Regions from separate parts of the Homo sapiens genome. Here region 2 is linked to region 1. The links come from fine-mapping of genetic effects on gene expression. A gene starts in region 1. The other region holds a variant in brackets. All regions are shown on one strand. Distances are from middle to middle.

Region 1 (11,314 bases):
TTCTGCCACAGTAATTGAGAAAGGGGAAGATTTGGTCTTTATTGGCCATTTTTTCTCTAGGGATTGCTACACAAATGTGATCAAATTTACTTATTATTACAATCCAATATTATGGTCGGGTGATTTTTAAATTAAATAATTGTTACATCTTCATTTGAAGGAGCCAAGATTTGGATAGTTTAACAATTAGCTTTCTTTGTGTAACTCTAACCCCTGAGAAAATCATTTAAGAAACTAATCAGCCCTCTCAAATTTACAGTGAGTGTTGATGCTTTTGTTTCCAAGTCTGTCTATGCACAAACTAGATAGGTAAGACTAGGTTCCTGAGGTTAATATGGTGTGTGACTCTCTCTGTTAGCATAAAAACCCATTTCTAGTTAAAAGAATTTCAAGATTTTGCTTAAAACTTCACTCAGCAGAACTTCTCCTTCTAAAAACTGGTGAATCACAAACAAACTAAAAGTAACCTTAATTGACTTCAGACTGGATATTCATGTAATGGTAATAAAGAGTGGCAGAATATGCCACTCCAAAATATGCCACTTTGGTATGAGGATTACTTTAAGCTAAAGACACTTGAAAAATAGCAGATGCAATAAGTGTATTCTAATCTTCCCTTTCTCGCCTTGAAAACAGGAAATAAAACCTTCCATGTGAAACATGCCTTCCCTATACCAGAAAGAAAATTCTTCAACAGGGAGTCATAGCTGAGAGAATTCTGTACAAATACATCTTGTTAAAAAAAAAATTCCTGGAGGCAGAGCAAGATGGCTGAATAGAACCCTCTAGCAATCATCCCCTCCAACAGGAACACCAAATTGAACAACTATTCACACAAGAAATCATCTTCATAAGAACGAAAGATCAGGTTTGCAATCACAGTCCCTGGTTTTAACATCATAGCAAAGAAAGAGGCACTGAAGAAGGTAGGAAAGACAGTCCTGGATAGTCAGAACCATCCCTCCTCCAACCCCCAGAGCAGCCATGTGGCACAGAGAGAGAATAAGTGTGCTTCGGGGAGGGAGAGGAAAGTGACTGTGGGGCTTTGGAATGGACTTCAGTGCTGCCTGTCACAGTGGAAAGCAACATCGGGTAGAATTCAGGTGGTGCTCATGGAGGGAGCATTTAGACCAGCCCTAGCCAGAGGGGAATTGTCCATGCCAGTGGGTGGAACGTGAGTTCTGGCTAGCCCCACCACTGTGGGATAAAGTGCTCTGGGGGTTCTAAATAAACTTGAAAGGCAGTCTAGGTCACAAGGACTGCAATTCCTGGGCAAATCTTGATGCTGTGCTGGGCTCTGAGGAATTGCTCTTGAGGTGCTAAATGGATTTTAAAAAACAAGACCCAATGATCGATCTGTGGCCCACAAGAAATACATTTCACCTATAAAGACACACATAAGCTGAAAATAAAGGAATGGGAAAAGATATTCTATGCAAATGGAAAACAAAAAAGAGCAGGAGTAGCTATACATATATCAGACAAAATAGATTTCGAGACAAAAGCTATAAAAAAAGACAAAAAAGGTCATTATATAATGATAAAGGGGTTCATTCAGCAAGAGGATATAACGATCATAAATATACATGCACCCAACACTGGATCACCTAGTTATGTAAAGCAAATATTACTAGAGATAAAGAAAGAAATAGACTCCAGTACAATAATGGCTGTTGATTTCAGCATTGGATACTTTCAGCATTGGAGAGATCAAGACAGAAAACCAACAAAGCAGCATTGGACTTAATCTGCACTATAGACCAAATGTACCTAGATATTTACAGAACATTTCATCCAACAGCTGCAGAATACACATTCTTTTCCTCAGCACATGGATCTTCTCAAGGATAGACATATTTTAGGTCACAAAACAAGTCTTAAAAATTTTCAAAAATATCAAAATCATATTAAGTATCTTCTCTGAGCACAATGGAATAAAACTAGAAAGCAATAACAAGAGGAAATTTGGGAATTGTACAAACACGTGGAAATTAAACAACATGCTCCTGAATGACCAGTGGGTCAATGAAAAAATTAAGAAAATTAAAAAATTTATTGAAACAAATTAAAATGGAAACACAACATAACAAAACCTATGGGATACAGTGAAAGCAGTACTAACAGGCATGTTTATAGCAATAAGTGCCTACATCAAAAAAGCAGAAAACTTCAAATAAACAATGTAATGATGCATCTTAAAGAACTAGAAAAGTAAAAAACCAAACTCAAAGTTAGTAGAAGGCTGGGAGTGATAGCTCACGCCTGTAATCCCAGCACTTTGGGAGGCTGAGGCAAGTGGATCACCTGAGGTTGGGAGTTCAAGACCAGCTTGGCCAACATGGTGAAACCCTGTCTCTACTAAAAATATAAAAATTAGCCAAGCATTGTGGTGTGTGCCTGTAATCCCAGCTACTCAGGAGGCTGAGGCAAAAGAATCACTTGAACCCAGGAGGCAGAGGTTGCAGTGAGCTGAGATCATGCCACTGTACTCCATCCTGGGCAACAGAGCAAAACTCTGTCAAAAAAAAAAAAAAAAGTAGAAGAAAAGAAATCACAAAAATCAGAGCAGAAATAAATGAAATTAAAATAAAGAACAATGCAAAAAAATTAATAAAATGAAAAGTTGGGTTTTTTGAAAAGATGAATAAAATCAATAAACTTTTAGCCAGATTAAGAGAAAAAGAGAGAAGATCCAATAAATAAAATCAGAGATGAAAAAGGAGATATTACAACTGATACAGTAGAAATTCCAAGGATCAACTATATGTTAATACATTGGGAAACCTAGAAGAAATGGATAAATTCCTAGATATATACCATTTACCAAGATTGAACCATGAAGAAATCTGAAACCTCAATAGACCAATAGCAAGTAAAAAGATCAAAGTCATAATAAAAAGTCTCCTAGCAAAGAAAAACCTGGGACCCAATGGCTTCAATGCTGATTTTTATCAAACATTTAAAGAAGAACTAATACCAATCCTACTCAAGCTGTTCTGAAAAATAGAGGAGGAAAAACTACTTCCAAATTCGTTCTATGAGGCCAGTATTACCCTGACACCAAAACCAAAGACACACCAAAACAAACAAACAAGCAAACCAAAAAACAGAAAACTGTAGGGCAATGTCCCTGATGGATCTTCTCAGCGAAGATCCTCAACGAAAATGCTAGCAAACTGAATTCAACAACACATTAAAAAAATCATTCATCATGACCAAGTGGCATTCATCTTAGGAATGCAAGGATGGCTCAACATACACAAATCAATCAATGTGATACAACCTATCAACAGAATGAAGGACAAAAACCATATGATCATTTTAATTGATGCTGAAAAAGCATGTGATAAAATTCAACATCACTTCATGATAAAAGCCCTCAATAAACTGGGAGTAGATGGAAGATACCTCAACACGATAAAAACCATATTTGACAGGCCCGTAGGTAGTATCATACTGAATAGGAAATACTGAAAACCTTTTCTCTAAGATCTGGAACAATATAAGGATGCCCACTTTAACCACTATTATTCAGTGTAGCACTGGAAGTCTTAGCTAGAGCAATTAGAGAAGAGAAAGATATAAAGAGCATCCAAACTGGAAAAGAAGAACCCAAATTATCCTTGTTTGCAGATGATATAATCTTATATTTGGAAAATCCTTAAGACTCCACCAAAAAAAATTATTAGAATGGATAAACAAATTCAATAAAGTTGTAGGATACAAAATCAACATATAAAACTCAGTAGCATTTTTATATACCAACAGCAAACAATCAGAAAAAGTAAGAAAATAATCCCATTTACAGTAGCTACAAATAAAATAAAATACCTAAGAACAAACTCAACCAAAGAAGTAAAAGATCTCTACAATGAAAACTATAAAACATTGAAGTAAGAAATTAAAGAGGACACACACACAAAAAAAGGAAAGATATTTTATGTTCTTGGATTAGAATAATAATTATTGTTAAAATGTCCATTTTATCCAAAGCAATTTACAGATTATATACAATTCCTATCAAAATACCAAAGACCTTCTTCACAGAAATAGAAAAAATAATCCTAAAATTTGTATGAAACCACAAAAGATCCAGCATAGCCAAAGCTAACCTGAGCAAAAAGAACAAAACTGGAGGAATCACATTACCTAAATTAAAATTATATTGCAGAGCTAAAGTAGCCAAACTAGCATGGTACTGGCATAAAAATAGATACATAGACCAATGGAACAGAATAGAGAACCCAGATATAAATCCATCATCTACAGTGAACTCGTTTTTGACAAAGGTATCAGTAACATATATTGGGGAAAAGATAGTTTCTTCAATAACGGTTCTGGGAAAACTGGATATCCATATGCAGAAGAATGAAACTACACCCCTATCTCTTGCCACATACAAAAATCAAATCAAAATGGATTAAAGGGCCAGGCATAGTGCCTCACGCCTGTAATCCCAGCACTTTGGGCGGCAGAGGCAGGTAGATCACTTGAGGTCAGGAGTTTGAGACCAGCCTGGCCAACATGGTGAAACCCTGTCTCTACTAAAAATACAAAATTAGCTGGGCGTAGTGGGGGGCGCCTGTAATCCCGGCTATTCTGGAGGCTGAGGTGGGAGAATTGCTTGAAGCTCGGAGGCAGAGGTTGCAGTGAGCCAAGATCAGGCCACTGCACTTCAGCCTGGACCACAGAGCGAGACTCTGTCTCAAAAAACAAACAAACAAACAAACACCCCAAGACCCTAGTAGGCACAGACACAAGCGGCTGGATGTTGAGAGGAACACACCGGCGGAGGAGCACACAGGTGGCTGGACATTGAGAGGAACAGAGGAGCAGAAGAGCACACCGACAGGCACCAGCGGACGCTGCCAGGTCACCGACAAGCAGCACGATGTGTAGACCGAGGGGAATTTGGCCAGGGCAGTCAGTGGAGAGTCTGGCTGCTGAGCGGCCGGACTCCAGGGGAAAACCACCTTTCCACTCCATTCCCTTTCTGGCTCCCCATCCATCTGTTGAGAGCCACTTCCACCAATCAATAAAACCTTGCACTCATTCTCCAAGCCCACTGTGTGATCCGATTTTTCCGGTACACCAAGGCCAGAACCCCAGGAAACAGAAAGCCCTCTGTCCTTGCGGTAAGACAGAGGGTCTAACTGAGCTGATTGACGCAAGCCGCCTATACACAGCAAAACTGAAAGAGCACCCTGTAACACACGCCTACTGGGGCTTTGCTTCAGCAGCTGTAAGCATTCACCCCTAGACGCTGCGGTGAGTTCGGAGCCCACGTGCCCCACAACCTGCCCGTCTGCATGCTCCCCCTAGAGGTTTGAGCAGCGGAGCACCAAAGAAGCAAGCCACACCCCCATTGTTACCGGTAGAAGGTGTCCAGGTTCTTGGCGTCTTGAACAAAGAATTGGACAAAACGCACAAAGCAAGGAAGGAATGAAGGGATTTACTGAAAATGAAAGTATACTCCACAGTGTGGGAGTGGGCCGAGCACAGGGGCTCAAAGACCCCGTTACAAATTTTTTGGGAGTTTAAATATCCCTTAGAGGATTCCATTGGTTACTTAGAGTACGCCCTGTGTAAATGAAGAGGATGAAGTAAGGTTACAAAGTCGTTTATGGTGTACACCCTATGGAGAGGATATTTCCTGTTATAGCCGAAGTGCGAATCGGCCTTATGTTCCCTACCTCCAGACCCTATTTTCCTGCCTCACCATCGCATGCCCTGCAAGGGGGATAAGGAAACTATTACCATTTCAGTATCAAGGAAATGAAACTTACCAGATCGTCACATCTGGACAATGAGACACCAGATCCCTCACCCACCATGATTCCCTAAACGACCACCTGATTCCTGTTGACCAACTCCTCTTCCTTACCCCTCCCTAATTCCTGATTTCCTGCAAGTAGTCACATTTCTTTCTTGCTATGTAAACCCTTGATTCTAGTTGGTTGGGGAGACAGATTTGAGACTGATCTCCTCGGCTGCAGCACCAGATTAAAGCCTTCCTCCCTGGCAATTCTCATTGTTTCAGTGATTGGCATTCTGTGCCAGGAGCAGCTGGATCTAGACGGAACCCCTGGCCTTTTAGTAACACATGTGGATCTGGCCCTGCCCGCCTCCCCGCTGTCTGTACTGATCTGAGTACATTCAAGTACCTGCGCATGCCCAGAACGCACCAAGCATTCTGTCCTCTGGCAGCCTCCTTCGGACCATCCAGATGTCACCTCCTTCAGGAAGCCCTCCCTGGTGGCCCCGCCCTTTGGGAGCACAAAACCCTTTATGCTCCCAAAGCCCAACGCCTTTATCATGTGCTGATGCTACTCTGCTTCTTCGCTGGCCCGGCAGGCCGGTGCACACTTTGTAGGAGCGGGCTTTGTCATAATCTTCTTTGTAGCCCCAGCCCTAGCTCAGCAGCGGAGCCCCTCAAACCTCGGGAACTCCTCCCTGCAAAGGAGCCAGGACGCCCTCCCTCAGGCTGCCTTTAACCAGGGCAGGGTGACAAAGGACCTCCACAGAGTAGGCGGTCACTGCCTTAGCAGTGAGGCCTCAGGGCCCGGGCAGGCACAGCCAGCGGGACTCGAAGCAGGCTGGCGCCGAGGCTCGTGTAGCCGCCTCACAGCTGCAGGCGGACTGTAAGTGCGCGCGCGGTCGCCATGGCAGCGCAGCCGCCGCGGCCAGTGGGTGAGAGGAGCATGGGGAGCTCCCGGGAGGCCGCCCGTGCGCCGGCCAGGTCCCCGGCTTGGGCCTCCACTCAGGCCAGTACTCCGGGCGCGGCCCTGGCGGTCCAGCGCGGTAAGAAGTAGGGAGCACGTCTGCGCGGCCTGGCCCAGACAAAACGCGCGAGGGGCGCCGGGGTCGCACGGCAGGAGTCCTCCCAGCAGCCCGCCAGCCCAAGGCGTCGAGGCGGGAGGGGGGCCCCTGGGAACCCCAGCTGTGGCCAGAGGTTTGGGGCGCCCAGAAACGAGGGCAGGAGAAGAGTCCCCGGTCGCCCTTTGCGACCGGGGGCAGGAGAGGAGTCCACGGAGAGGAGTTCCCGTGGGTCCGCCCTTTGCGCGATAGGTTGTGCAGATGGTGTCTGTCGCCGTGCTCTCAGGGTCTCCGGGAGGGGGTGGCGGGGGGGCTCTTCTCAGCCCCCTTTTTGTGAAAGTCCCAGAGAGCAGGTCACAGGGGGGCATGAGGGTCTTGATACTGTTTCTGACTTTGCACCTCTGTACTATCTCCGTTTTAAATATTTCTGCGCCCATGATTAGCAAGTTAAGCACCTACCCTGAACGGCCACCCCCTACCCGCCATTTCCGTTTTATATGCTGGTTTTAAAGTCTGTTTGTGGATACGGAACTGTGTTCGGAGGCTGGCTTAATAATACTGCATCCAGGAGATGGGCAGTGTTAGGCTCTGCCTTTAGCATGAGAGGAAATTTAAGCTGGCATAACAACTTGTTCAAATGTACACACTGCGGATTCTGGATAGGGCACCCACGTTCTGACTCATGCTTATCGCTTAGATTTCCCAGTGCTTGGCTAAGTATAGAAAAGCATGTTTTGGAGGGATCTACCTCCTAAGTAAGTCCTCTCTCTGGAAATTGTTAAAACGTGGCTGCCAGAGGCGTGGATGAAAAAATGAAATTTGGGTTAGGTTCTTGACATTTTCCTGCGTAGCTGGGTTATTTCCTAGTTTTTGCTTTACAATTTGAAGGCTATTTTCCTTCTAATATGAATACAATATAGGAAATAAATTCATTGGTGCCACAAAATCCTGGCATACAAAATACGTAGGTGAATTTTAAATCAAAGGAAGGGTAGCAGAAACTTTTAAATACTGTAAATCTCTGGCTAGCTTGTTAAATAAGAATATTTCCATAACTTTGTTTAGCTGTATTTAGCTCGTAGTCTAAGATTCCTTCATGCCTTCGCGAAAATGAATTGTAGTCTGACACATTTCTGTGCCCTCGGAGATTCTCAGGGCAATTTTTCTCTTAATACCAAGGAAGACAGTAGGGAAGAAAGAAGCCCAGTGGGAGCCCAGCTCCAACTTCTATTTGGGATCTACTTGCTTTGTTTCCTGGGGAGGACGCTAAAGCAGCATTTTCTAGATTGCATTCCAAGTGAGGTTTTTGTTTTGTTTTGTTTTTGAGATGGAGTCTCCTCTGTCGCCCAGGCTGGAGTGCAGTGGCGCGATCTCTGCCCACTGCAACCTTGTAACCTCCACCTCCCGCATTCAAGCGATTCTGTCGCCTCAGCCTCCGAAGTAGCTGGGACTACAGGCATGCGCCACCACACCAGCTAATTTTTGTATTTTTGGTAGAGATAGGGTTTCACCATATTGGCCAGGCTGGTCTCGAACTCCTGGCCTCAAGTGATCCGCTCGCCTCGGCCTCCCAAAGTGCTGGGATTACAGGCGTAAGCCACCGCACCCGGCCGGAAATGCAGCATTCTTATCCTCCCTATTCTCAAGCTTAACAGTTTGCAGAGTGTGCACGTTTTAAATGCCCTGAGAAGTGTTGTGTCTGTGTATAGTTTTGTTTATTTTAGTACTTCTCAGACTTACTTGATAATAAGACCTATTCTATTTGGAACACCTTTGATCATCCTGTAGAACATGCATATTCCACAAAATACAGTTTGGGAAATATTGTGCTACAATATCATTTAAATACATGAAAATTTTCTAAAATAGGTGAAGCTTTTTTTAATACGTACATCTATCCACATGACAGAAATTATGCTATTTAAATTTTTCAGAGAATATCTAGTGACATGGGAAAACTGCTTACAATATAATGTTAATTTAAAAAACAGCATATAAAGTTATATCCAAAGATTCCAATTTTGTTTAAAAAATACTTAATATGCATATAAAAGAAAAACTATAGGAAGTATGTATGCCTAGACCTCAATTGTGGTTGTTCTTTGGCAGTGGGATTGCAGATTAACATGTATTTTTTTTTAATGTTAGAAATTTCCGGTCGGGCTCAGTGGCTCACCTGTAATCCCAGCACTTTGGGAGGCTGAGGCAGGCTGATCACTTGAGGTCAGGAGTTTGAGACCAGCCTGGCCAACATGGTGAAACCCCGTCTTTATAGCTGGGTGTGGTGGTGTGTGCCTGTAGTCCCAGCTACTCGGGAGGCTGAGGCAGGAGAATCGCTTGAACCCGGGAGGCAGAGGTTGCAGTGAGCCGAGATTGCGCTCCTGCTCTCCAGCTTGGGTGGCAGATCAAGAACCTATCTCAAAAAAAAAAAAAAAAGAAATTTCCAAATTGTCTGGAATAAGTATATTAAATTTATTTTTAAAAAGGTTATTAAAAACTATAAGAAAATTTTGTTTGCTTTCATCTGAAATGTAATGTTCCTCATGTTAAATCTCGTTCTGCAGATCCGTTTAGCAAACTCATTATTCTTCAGAGTGCAAAGGACACTCAGTAAACAACATTTCTGAGATGTAGAGACTTAGAAGAGAAGCCAGCTCCTAAAAAGCTAGGCTGGTTGAGCAATGAGATCTCTGTGCACAAATTTTTAAAAGACATCCACAAAAGGTAGATGTATAGAAAACAAAGACAGTGGCCTGTACTTCTAAGAAAAGTAACAGCATAACTTCCACCCCAGAAGATGTAGGCCTTGCAGAAGATGCTTTTGAGGTATTACTGAGAACAGCAAGGTCATTAAGGAAATCTGCATGTATAACAGAAAGGAGATCTCAACTCCTGCTTTGTGTCTGTCTTCTTAAGAACTTAGGGAAAAGTCACCTTTAGAAAGAGGAAATGGAAGGCTGGGTAGGAGAAGAGCTTCTGTGAGCCAGGCCTCGATTTGGTATGAAGAAATGACAGTTACATTCAAACTTGGGATGGTGTAGAGGGTATCCAAGAAGCTTGTGGGAGTAGGTGCTTTATCAGATCCCTTTTGAGTTAGGTTATTAGATAAAATTGTTTTTATGTGAAGCTATTTTAAGAAACCTTTTCCTCTCGTGGATGCTGAGATACTGAGTTGAAAAAAAAAAAAAAAAAAAAGAAACCTTGAGTCCCTGTAACCCATTAGGGCACAGTGGAAAGAGGTTTTGGAATCAGTTTGATTCTGCACTCTGCCTTTATTAGCTGCATGGTTTTGGACAAAATATACAATTTCTTTGGAAGTCATTTTCCTCAGCTACCAGGCCTGGCACATAATGGAGCTTAGTTCTCCCTTTATGTCACTTCCAACGTAGGGTGCTCACTTGAGCCAGTGTCTGCCAAGCCTCAATGGGTGCTTCAATGGCCCTAGTTCTCCAAACAGCATTTTAATTATCTCTCCCATTCATTATTTTTATTTCTCTTCTCTTTTTCTAACCTTAATTCTGTTTCCTTTTCTTCCCTACCCCCACTATACACACATACAACTCATATATTTGAAAGAGGTAGTTTTTATGGTTTTTTTTAAAGCTTCTAGAATAATTTATATGTGATAGAGGATGCATATATTTTTCAGAATCTCCAGAATCTGGTCTCCAGAAACATTATTCTAATCTGTGTATGGAAAAATCCCAGAAAATTAATCCTTTTATATTGCATATACTCCAAGAAGTGGATGAAGAAATTAAAAAGGGGTAAGAAAGACAAATACTTGATTACATTAATAGTGTTTGCTTATATTCATGTGTGTGAAAATCCTAACATATTGAGTGATTTTATAGCCATTTGAAAATGCTTGGTAAAATGAACATACCATTTGATTCAGGTAAGTAAGTACACGAGCAACACTGTTAGTAGGTCTTAGAGGTGGTATAGTATTCAGGAAAGAGCACTAGACCAGGAGTACCCAAGCTTGGGCTCCAGAGTGATCTTTAACTTCTGTGGGTGGGGTGAATCTTTTTTTTTTGTTTGTGGGCAGGGTGAATCTTTTTTTTTTTTTTTTTTTTCTGAGATGGTGCCTCCCTCTGTCGCCCAGGCTAGAGTGCAGTGGCGTGATCTCGGCTCACTGCAAACTCAGCCTCCTGGGTTCAAGCAATTCTCCTGCCTTGGCCTCCCGAGCAGCTGGGATTACAGGTGCTCGCCACCATGCCCGGCTAATTTTTGTATTTTTTAGTAGAGACAGGGTTTCACCATGTTGGCCAGGCTGGTCTCGAACTTCTGACCTCAGGTGATCAGCCCGCCTTGGCCTCCCAAAGTGCTGGGATTACAGGCGTGAACCACCACGCCTAACCTGAGCTGGGTGAGTCTAAGCAAATCACTGAAGTTTTCAGTGTTATCTATAAAGTGGGGATACTGTTTGTGTGAGTGTGAGTGTGTGTGAGAGAGCTAAATATATGGAATCTTTTAAAGCACTTTGCAGTCTGCA
Region 2 (10,743 bases), 22 kb before region 1:
AATAAAAAAAGCTGTAGATGGGATGTACAGAGAGGAAATCTGTTACTAATTTCAGATGTCCTGAATAAAGCTGCTAATAACAAATCATTACTAATTACTAATCTTGTCATTACTATTCCTGGAGATAGTGTTATGGGAAATGGGAATAGCCATGGCAGACAGTATTCTTGTATGTTAGCATTTAGAGTGATTCTGTTTTCCAGCATCGGTCATACAGACGGGTCATCTGGCCAAACTGCAAAAGCTGGACCTGAGCTACAATGACAGCATCTGTGATGCGGGGTGGACCATGTTCTGCCAAAACGTGCGGTTCCTCAAAGAGCTAATCGAGCTGGATATTAGCCTTCGACCATCAAATTTTCGAGATTGTGGACAATGGTTTAGACACTTGTTATATGCTGTGACCAAGCTTCCTCAGATCACTGAGATAGGAATGAAAAGATGGATTCTCCCAGCTTCACAGGAGGAAGAACTAGAATGCTTTGACCAAGATAAAAAAAGAAGCATTCACTTTGACCATGGTGGGTTTCAGTAAACTGATTTCCCATGTCCTACTAAGCTACAAACCATTCTCCAAAGGAAAAGAACATGAACGAATTCCAGAGTCATGAACTGAATTTCAACTTCTGGGCCATTTAATGGGACTTATATTACAAGAGCTTTGTAAATATATATATATATTACATATATATATGTAATATACATATATACACATATATATAATATACATATATAATACACATATATATGTAAATATATATATAATATCTAATATGAGCATGCCATTATTCTCTGTCTATGAAACAAAAATGGCATTTTTCAATGGATTTGTTTTGGATATATAATTAGTTCATTTGCTGTTTAGAAGCCTTGCCAAAAGTGTTTAGATTTTGGTACTGCAACTGCTTTCCTCTTGCCCAGAAATGTTTTGCCTCTTCTTTTCCTACAAGTTAAATGTTCTAAATATAAAGGGGTATGTGTGTGTGTGTGTAATTCTAATGTGAAAGGCACTAGCTGTCTAATAGTTTCATGTATCATTACTATTACTATATGTATCTTAATGTAGTCTATGTAGGTTTTTATCAGAAAGTGTACCTTTCTATGGTTTATTATTTTATATTCTGGTGCCTTTTATCTCAGATATAAACCATGAACAGTAATGATAGTCACTGACATATAAATCTTAGTAAAAAGTGATTAAAAATCTAAAACTCAGTATGAAAAACATATCTTGTTAGAATAAATTAAAACCTTTTATTGTTTAAAAAATTGTTAACATATTGCCTCCAGGCATTTCTTTGAAATGGAATTTGCTTCATAAAACTAATTTAATTCGTTAATGACAGTTTTGTGTTGCTCTAAACTATTTTTGAAATTTTTGATTTTCTTTTGCTAGAGCATGAAAGTCATTGCATGGCAGAGATGTTTGTCTGCACATTTCTATTCTGACAAGCTCTAGTCAAATTATGTTTTGCTTTCTTCTACTACACTAATAATTAGTATTGCAATCACTGCCTGAAAGACATGCAAATGTAAAATCAACACTACTCCAAATTAAAAGGTTTTCAGGATGAGGAGGTTTTGAATGATGTAAAGGGGATATTTTGGGTTACATGATATAAAAGAATACCATGAATATCATGAGCATTCCCATGCATTCCATGAGTATCTATGCATATGCAAAAACCTATGCATGAATGTTCATAGCAGCTTTGTTCACAATAGCAAAAAAACTAGAAACAATGAGTGAAAGGTTAAACAAACTGTGGGACTATGGAATACTCCTCAGCAACAGAAAGGAACAAACCACTGATACATGCCCCCAGTTCGATAGACTTCAGGTGGATTAGGCTGAATAAAAAAGCCAATCCCAGTTACAAACTGTGTGTTTCCATTTATGTGACATTCCTAAAATGACACAATTATGGATCTGGAGAACAAGTTAGGCATTGGGAGAGGAGTAGGCAGTAGGTATGGCTACAGAGGAATAGCACAAGGGAAACTTGTGGCAATGGAACAATTCTATGTCTTGACTGTGATGGTGGCTGCACAAAACTATATGTGACAAAATTGCATAGGATTACACAAACACACACACACAAATGAGTGCACTGTTGATTGTACCAATGTCAATCTTCTGGTTTTGTTATTGTGCTATAGTTATAAAAGAGGTCAGCGTTGAGGGAGGCTGAGTAGTGCCTGGACCTACCTGAACATTTCTTTGGAACTTCCTGTGAATCTATAATTATTTCACAGTAAAAGTTTTAAAAGTAGGCTGGCTGGGTGCAGTGGCTCACGCATGTAATCCCAGCACTTTGGGAGGCCAAGGCGGGCAGATCACTTGAGGTCAGGAGTTCGAGACCAGCCTGGCCAACATGGTGAAACCCCATCTCTACAAAAAAAATATAAAAGTTAGCCAGGCATGGTGGCATGCACCTGTAGTCCTAGCTACTCGGGAGGCTGAGGCATGAGAATTGTTGGAACCTGGGAAATGGAGGTTGCAGTGACCCAATATTGCACCACTGCATGCCAGCCTGGGCAACAGAGTGAGATCCTGTCTTAAAATAAATAAATAAATAAAAGTAGGCAAATAGTATAAAGAACCCCTGCGTACTCATCACCTTATTCTAGTTATCAATGTACGGCCAATCTTGTTTCACTTGTATTCCTACCCACTTTCCCCTCCCCCTCCCATATTATTTAGAAGCAATTCCAAGGTGTTATATCATTTTATCCATAAATATTTCAGTAAAAGTAAGAATCATTTATTTTTACACATAAGTGTAATTTTATGAATAATTTTAATGTAGTAGGCATCTAATTCCTAGATATTTTGTCTTCTTAATCTATCAAGGTCCATTACCCCAATTTATCAATTTACAGGATTATTTCTTTTTTCCCTTTCCTGGTTTTCCTTTTACATCCTTCTTTCCTTTCTTATCTTTTGGAGAGGTCTTTCCTTTCTTTTGTGGTTTTAGTAGTTCACCGAATTTCCCAAATCCTCTCTGTACCATTGTTCCACGCCACCATGCCTGAATCTGAAAACAAGATAAACCCAAATTCAGCATCGGCTGGTATCACAATGAACTGGAAATTGTTAAATCTCTTTATTCTGATACATGGTCTTGAAGACGTGGAGAGAATGGGATGTGATTAGAACTCTAAATTTTATTTTCTATCTTTCTCAATTGGCTAGGCATTCAGACAAATTTTTTAAAAAATGCATTTATTGTTTTTATGTGCCAGTGCCTGTTCTAGACTTTTGGGCAACAGCAGAGAAATAACTGTCTCAACTTTATGGAGCTCACATTCCAGTGAGGAAGAGACAGTACAAAATAAACACATGAATGTTCAATTTGTCAGACGGTGATGAGTGCTATGGAGAGTGACCGCACATGGTGAGGGGATCTGAGTGCCTACGCCCTGCCTTCCTGCTCCTTACTGGGCTGTCTGTGCTCCTGCCTAAAGCCAGCCCTCACTTGTTCCCTGGATCCTATTCCCTCCTACCTACCCAGCAACACCCTTCCTCTAGCAGCAGACTTGTCCAGTGGCTCCCCATTTCTCTCTGAATAGAAGCCAAAGTCCTTATATGGCTTACAAGGCCCTCTCTGATCTGCCTCCCCAATCCTGACCCCTCTAACCTCTTAACTCCCTTTTCCCTGGCTCACTCTGCTCCAGCCATGCGGGCCTCCTCCCTGCTCAGACACATAGGCACAGTTGTGACTCAGGGCCTGTATATTCGCTGCTTTCTTTGCCTGGAACTCTTCTCAGTATTCAGATGGCTCACCCCTCCGCTGCTTCAAGGATTTGCTTGATTGTCATTGCTACGGACTGAACTGTGTTGCCCCAAATTCATATGCTGAAGTCCTAATCCCCAGTGTGAATGAATTTGGAGAAGGGGCTTTGAGGAGATGATTAGATTTATATGAGGTCATAACAGCAGGGTCCTCATGATGAGATTAGTGGCCTTATAAGGAGAGATATCAGAGAGTTAGCACTCTCTAGTGCAATCTCTCTCTCTCTCTCTCTCTCTTTCTGTTATATGAAGACACAGGGAGAAGTCAGCTTCTACAGGCCAGGAAGAGGGCCTTCACCAGACTCCAATCATGCTGATACTCTGACCTTAGACTTCCAGCCTCCAGAACTGTGAGAAAATACATTTCCATTGTTTAAGCCGCCTGTTCTATGGTATTTTGTTGTGGCAGCCTAAGCTAAGACTGCCATTTTTTCAGTGAGGCCTACTCTGACAATCTTATTTAAATCAACCACTTCTCCACCTCCACACACTACTGGCAATTTCAGTTCCCCTTAGGCTAACTTTTTTTTTTTTTTAAACAGTAGCACTCTCTAACATAGTATTTCATTTTATGTTTTCTATTTCATGCTTTTATTTCCCTCCTACTAGATTTTAAGTACTGTGAGGACATAAATATTTGTTTTGTTCACTGATGTATCTCAATGCTTAGAACAGTGTCTGGTGCATAGTAGAAGCTCAATAAATGTTTGTTGAATGAATGAACAAATGAAAGAGGTGGCTGGGGGTATGCTGTTTTATATAAGGTGGATCAAGGAAGGGCTCTCTGATAAGAGAATGTTTAAGCAGAGATGGAATGAAGTGAGGGCCAGAATCTTGCTCATATCTGGGGAAAGCATCTCTGGGCACAGGAAGAGCCAGTGTTAAGGCCCTGAGCCAGGAACATGCTTGGTCCTTGGAGGAACACCAGATCTGCTTGTGACTGAAGTCCAGTGAGAGTAGGAAAGAGGAGATGGGGAGTGAAAACAGCAGACCAATCGGGATCCAGGGAACAGCACTGCTCTCTAGAGGCATTTTGGAAATTTATGGGGCTTTTTGTTGACTTAAGGTTAAGCAGTCTTCAATTGTGTGGCCTATACCCTGGTCTACAAAGCCTTTCCAACAGTGTGCAGGCATGGATAGGTTGAAGACAGTCCATTTCCTGAGCTCCAGCTTCCATATGTACCCCTTCCTAAAATCATCCCGAGAACATAACTGCAGATCCCCCATCCCAGTTGCCCCTGTGATGCTCCACAGAGGAAGGGCACAGCTTGCACCCACCTGAATCTTACTATGGTGCATTGCCCTGGACTCCAAAAATCATTAGGACACACACACACACACACACACACACACACAGAAAAAGACAATTCAAAGTACAAGTGTTGATGAGAAAATGAATGACTCTAGGGACTGGTTAACCAATCCTTTTGCAAGACAGGTGGTTTCTAATTCTACCTTCAAGAAAAATAAGGGAAGCCTAGTTGACATGTCAGCTAAGACCTGCTATCGATTTGGGGGATATAAATCTGGAAGAAGCTCAGAGATGCATGAATCATTGTTTTTTTAAAATAAAACATTACAGGCAAAAAAAGCTTCTTCTGTTCTCTTTAACTCATCTACGTGAACAAGGTTTCTCAAGGCTTTCATCTGTAAAATGAGAAACAGGAGTAGAATCTATAATCAACCCTGTGTTATTCTAATAATCATCAATATTTATGCATGAATATATAAACTATGCTAAAAAAACCCTCTCATTTTGGTACACTGTTCTAAAAAATCCTATATGTCTAATAATTATTAAAATTTGTAAGAAATTTTATGTTGTTTTAGGTGATTTTATACTAATAGTTGTAATGTATATACATTTTTAAATTTTTAAAATTTAATTTATATAAATATTTTTGTCACCTAGAAGTACAAAAGAGCAATCTATGAAAGACTTATATGTGTATACATAAAACCTTAGGATCAATTTTGAGGGGAAAGTAGAATGGAAGTACATGTTTAAGAAGAAAAGGAATATGATATAAAAATTCTGCCTATAAAATAATAACTTGTTTGAGTATTTGTAAATTGGTGTTGACAAATCATAATGATATTCAGTTTCCACTGGATACATTTAAAATATTGATCTAACAGCTCTATTTTAAAATGTCAACATTTAAAATTCACTGGAAATTACATCCTTTGCAATGATTTAAACTTGTGGCCAACAATGTTAAATATCATTTTAAGAACGTGCAAGAGGGTGCACAGTTTTTCAAAATGCTTTTAGGAAGTATTCAATTAAGAACCACAACTTTCATTCTTTCAAGTGTAATCCATCCTGAGCATATACACACTGAAATAATTTATTCATTTATTTTTGGAGACAGCTGTTGCCCAGGCTGGAGTGCAGTGGCACAATCTAGGCTCACTGTAACCCCCGCCTCCTGGGTTCAAGCGATTCTCCTGCCTCAGCCTCCAGAGTAGCTGGGATTACAGGCACGCACCACCATGCCCAGCTAATTTTTGTATTTTTAGTAGAGACAGGGTTTCACCATGTTGGTCAGGCTGATCTCGAACTCCTGACCTCAAGTGATCCACCCGCCTCAGCCTCCCAAAGTGCTGGGATTACAGGCGAGAGCCACCGCGCCAGGCCTGAAATATATATTTGTATATAAATTACTTTTCTTTCTCCTTTAAATTGTAACTCAGGCGTTATTTTGATTAAAATTATGTCCTTTTGTATGTTTTTATTATCTCTGAATTTATTTTGGAATAGTAAAAGAGGTATTACAAAAGATTTATCATAAAAGGGAGGACATTAGGTCTGATAGGGTTGAGGGCTATTGAGAGGGGGTTTTACGGACTGAAGACTTGACTCTTACTCTGAGTGTAATGGAGGATTGCCAATTTCAGTGGAGCATCAGTGCAACTGCTGAGCAGAAGGTATGTTGTGGGGGGCTGG[C/A]ATGCAAGCAGGGACAGTAGTCAGAGGGCTTATGTAGTTATCCGGCTGTGAGATGATGGGGACTTGGGCCAGTTGGAGAATAAAGAACACTGGCTGAAGTGGACACATTCCAGACCTGTCCTACATCTCCATGGGCTCAAAGGGCTAGAGCAGAATTACAAGGATCTCAGCCTTTTGATCCTTATTAATGGCAGCTCAGAACCCTGGGCTCAGCCTCTCATCTATAAACGCTTTCATTTCTAATTTTCTAAACTTATTTTACTACTTTTGTTAATACAAACTTTTTTCATTCCAATGAAATAGTCCACGAATTTTAGATTGTTGGAAATGTTGAAGTTTTGGTTTCCTTTGCCTATTTGTTGGCTTCTTATTGGACAAAGAAATAAGGGACATAAAAGACAAAAATGCTAGGGCTGACATTTAAAAATCTTCTTACTTAGCCCTGGGGACATAAAAGTTACCAAGTAACTTCTCTTTTCAGAAGCAGGACAAGGGTGTAAGGAGTTGCTCCGTAGGATAATCTGTACTGTGTTTACCATTAGACTCCCTCTAAAGCAACTGTTATCAAGAATCTGGGCTGATTTTACCTTTGTTGCCATTATATTCCTGTTTCTGTTTTCCTTGAGGTATTTCCATATGGCCTCATTGCCTTCAGCACACACTTCTTTTGGGGGTTCTTCCATGGGATTGTCCATCAGTGTCAGAACCTTAAGATTCACTAGGGAATCCAAATTCTCTGGAAGATGGGTGAGCAAGTTGTCCTCCAGCCGTAATTCTTTCAAAGCTGAAAAGATTTTTTCGTAATGGTGGTTCAATCTTAGAAGAAACAATATTAACTTGTCACCTAATCCTGTCCACATAGGTGAGGGATCCAATTCTGCATTTGCAAAGGGAATGAGAGGAAGGATGCACAAGACCCGACAAAACTTTTTCTACCATCTAATAAAAGTTCTAGCTCTATGTTTGCTCCTTCTCAAAATGAAGAGAACAGAATTCAGTCTCCAGATATTCCAAATGTTTTGTTTGTTTAGAGCAACAGTTTTTAGCTGAAACTGACAGCCCACTGGGAAAAATCACTCTCAGACCCTGCTGTTCCTAAGGTCAGCAGACTATTGATTTTTTTTTTTTTTTTTTTTTTTGAGACAGAGTCTCACTTTGTTGCCCAGGCTGGAGTACAGTGGCATGATCTGAGCTCACTACAACCTCTGCCTCCCAGGTTGAAGCGATTCAAGTGCCTCAGCCTCCCAAGTAGCTGGGATTTCAGGTGCACGCCACCACACTTGGCTATTTTTTTTTTTTTTTTGAGACAGAGTCTAGCTCTGTCACCGAGGCTGGAGTGCAGTGGCGCCATCTCGGTTCAGTGCAGCCTCCGCCTCCCGGGTTCAAGTGATTCTCCTGCCTCATTCTCCTGAGTAGCTGGGATTACAGGCACCCACCACCAAGCCCAGCTAATTTTTGTATTTTTAGTAGAGATGGGGTTTCACTGTATTGGCTAGGCTGGTTTCGAACTCCTGACCTCATGATCTGCCTGCCTTGGCCTCCCAAAGTGCTGGAATTACAGGCGTGAGCCACCGCGCCTGGCCTACAACTTCTTTATAACAATTCAAAGTTGTTGAAGCCAGTGTCCATAAATATTAGAGACAGAAAAATAGAAAACACTGAAAAATTTTGAGAATATTTCACTCCTCCAGGGACCAAGGACAGGATAAAAATTTATGGTCAGGAGCATTACTAAGGATTACTGCATACAACCCCTTGTCTCCATTTTTTTTTTCTTTTTTTTTTTAAATTTTTTAACTTTTATTAAAACGGAGTCTTGCCCTGTTAACAGGCTAGAGTGCAGTGGTGCAATCTCAGCTCACTGCAACCTCTGCCTCCCGGATTCAAGCAATTCTCCTGCCTCAGCCTCCCAAGTAGCTGGGATTACAGGCACGTGCCATCACACTCAGCTAATTTTGTATTTTTAGTAGAGATGGGTTTTCACCATGTTGGCCAGGCTGGTTTGAACTCCTAACCTCAGGTGATCTGCCCTCCTCGGCGTCCCAAAGTGATGAGATTACAGGCGTGAGCACCGCGCCTGGCCTTGCCCCCAGTTTTTGAATGCCTTATGAGTAGGCATCAGCTTCCACTCTCTCCATTCTTTTTTCATTAAAGAATAACTATAGTTTGGGCCAGGCACGGTGGCTCACGCCTGTAATTCCAGCACTTTGGGAGGCCAAGGTGGGCAGATCACGAGGTCAGGAGATCAAGACCATCCTGGCTAACACAGTGAAACCCCGTCTCTACTAAAAAAAAAAAAAAAAAAAAAAAAAAAAAAAAAAAAAAAAAAATTAGCCGGGCGTGGTGGCGGGCGCCTGTAGTTCCAGCTACTCAGGAGGCTGAGGCAGAAGAATAGCGTGAACCCGGGAGGCAGAGTTTGCAGGGAGCCGAGATCACGCCACTGCACTCCAGCCTGAGCGACAGAGCGAGACTCTGTCTTAAAAAAAAAAAAAAAAAAAAAAAAAAAAAAGAATAGCCATAGTTTGAAAACATGTGCATAAGCCTAGGATTCAGAAAAAAAAAAAGAAACATTTAAAATCTGGTCCCAGTGGGTGCTCAGCAAAAGCATATTAAGTGGATGGATGAATGTACAGACAAAGAATGGCTTAGTGTAGTGGAAAATGTTTGGCTATTTAAGTAGGAATCATATATAGTTTTCCAGGTCAATTATGTAGCTCCAAGAAAGTCTCCTGCTAATTTCACCACTCTGGGCCAATACTTTTTCTTTTACTCAAGTGACTCCGTGACCTAGATGAAATTTACTGCAGGATCCCAACTCCAAATTCTGGCATGTAGTAAGTGTACAGTAAATTATTGTTGGTAGTGTAATAAATGTATGGGTAAATGCTAATTTTCTTAGCAGTCGCTATTTACCTTTCCATTTTAATAAATGACTTAACTGCCTTTGCAAGACTCTTAGCTATACTAATCAGGACACCTGGCCTCCCCCATGTCGCTAAGTGAGCCCTGCAAGGAAGTAATGGGATAGACTCAGTTCTCTGAACACTGAGATAGGTCTTTAGCAAAGCAAGGAAGCCATTTGCCATAGGAAATGCTGGCCACAAACTCTGCTAGGCTGTGAATCTACTAAGTTTCCTCACCTTGTGCTTGGCAAATGGCATCTGGAAGTTGCTTAAGCAAATTGTGCCGGCAATCAAGAACTTCTAGGTTAGGCATTGACCCCAAGGATACGGGCAGGTACTCCAGATGATTGTTCTCTATATATAGCTCTTTGAGACTCTGAAATAACATGAGTGTACCATAATAATATACCTTGATTAATTAATTATAATAACCAGAATCACCTGTGGGTGCTCATGCATTTTTTTTTTTTTTTTTTTTTTTTTTTTTTTTCACTTTCAGTGGGGAAATTACGCATTGAGTTAAGGGAAAAAGCATGTCTAAAGGACCATCATCAAGACCCAAAATTATTTTTGAGTAAATCCATTAGACTTAGTTTCCATTTATGCAGGGAAAAGAGACTACAGACATCTAGTGCTTATTTGTTTCACCAGAACTTTATGGAAAAATAATTTGAATAATTTAACTACATTTATCATTAACTCCTTTTTTAATAGCTAATTGTCTGTGGCAGTTGCTACAGAATGATAATTGCCTCAACTATCAACCCAATATTGCCTCAGTGAAAGTAGCCAAAATGCACAGGGAATGGATTTGAATGTATTCAAAATAACTATTTTCAACTTCACTGGGCAAAAATCTAATGTTTGTACTTCACCCTAAGATTGTGGCATGACAGGTACAAAGGAAAAGCTGATGAAAGGTGTTCTATGAACACAGGGCAAAGGAATGGAGAATTAGGAAGAGACACCCTGTGTCATAGTGAGAACTACCTATGCTGTGCATGGCATTGCATGACTGGGGTTATGTGGTGGCCCACGCCTACTTTATCATCATTAAGAGTGCAGCAGGTCAGACACGGTGGTTTATGCCTATA

The links. PIP is the estimated chance that this variant, and not a neighbour inherited with it, causes the effect.
Region 2: its variant is the best candidate, but not a certain one, in a credible set for the expression of LRRC34 in whole blood (TOPMed, PIP 0.70).

What each region holds. Positions count from the first base shown.
Region 1 is chr3:169,807,897-169,819,210 of GRCh38, reverse strand. LRRC34 (leucine rich repeat containing 34) reads left to right here and starts at 6,307. Exons shown (of 11, transcript NM_001172779.2): 1 at 6,307-6,801; 2 at 10,466-10,583. The coding sequence starts at 6,663. LRRIQ4 (leucine rich repeats and IQ motif containing 4) reads right to left here and starts at 6,341. Exons shown (of 6, transcript NM_001080460.3): 1 at 6,165-6,341. RefSeq lists enhancers at 4,703-4,752, 5,043-5,142, 10,655-10,799, a silencer at 6,633-6,932 and a cis regulatory region at 10,727.
Region 2 is chr3:169,829,774-169,840,516 of GRCh38, reverse strand. It overlaps LRRIQ4 (leucine rich repeats and IQ motif containing 4), which reads right to left. Exons shown (of 6, transcript NM_001080460.3): 4 at 9,887-10,025; 5 at 7,334-7,530; 6 at 2,744-3,038. The coding sequence ends at 2,886. LRRC31 (leucine rich repeat containing 31) reads left to right here. Exons shown (of 9, transcript NM_024727.4): 9 at 204-1,345. The coding sequence ends at 535. Among named protein-coding and RNA genes, the nearest start is that of LRRC34, 22 kb to the right of the region's middle. RefSeq lists an enhancer at 4,142-4,221. The variant C/A (reference allele first, on the strand shown) is at 6,747.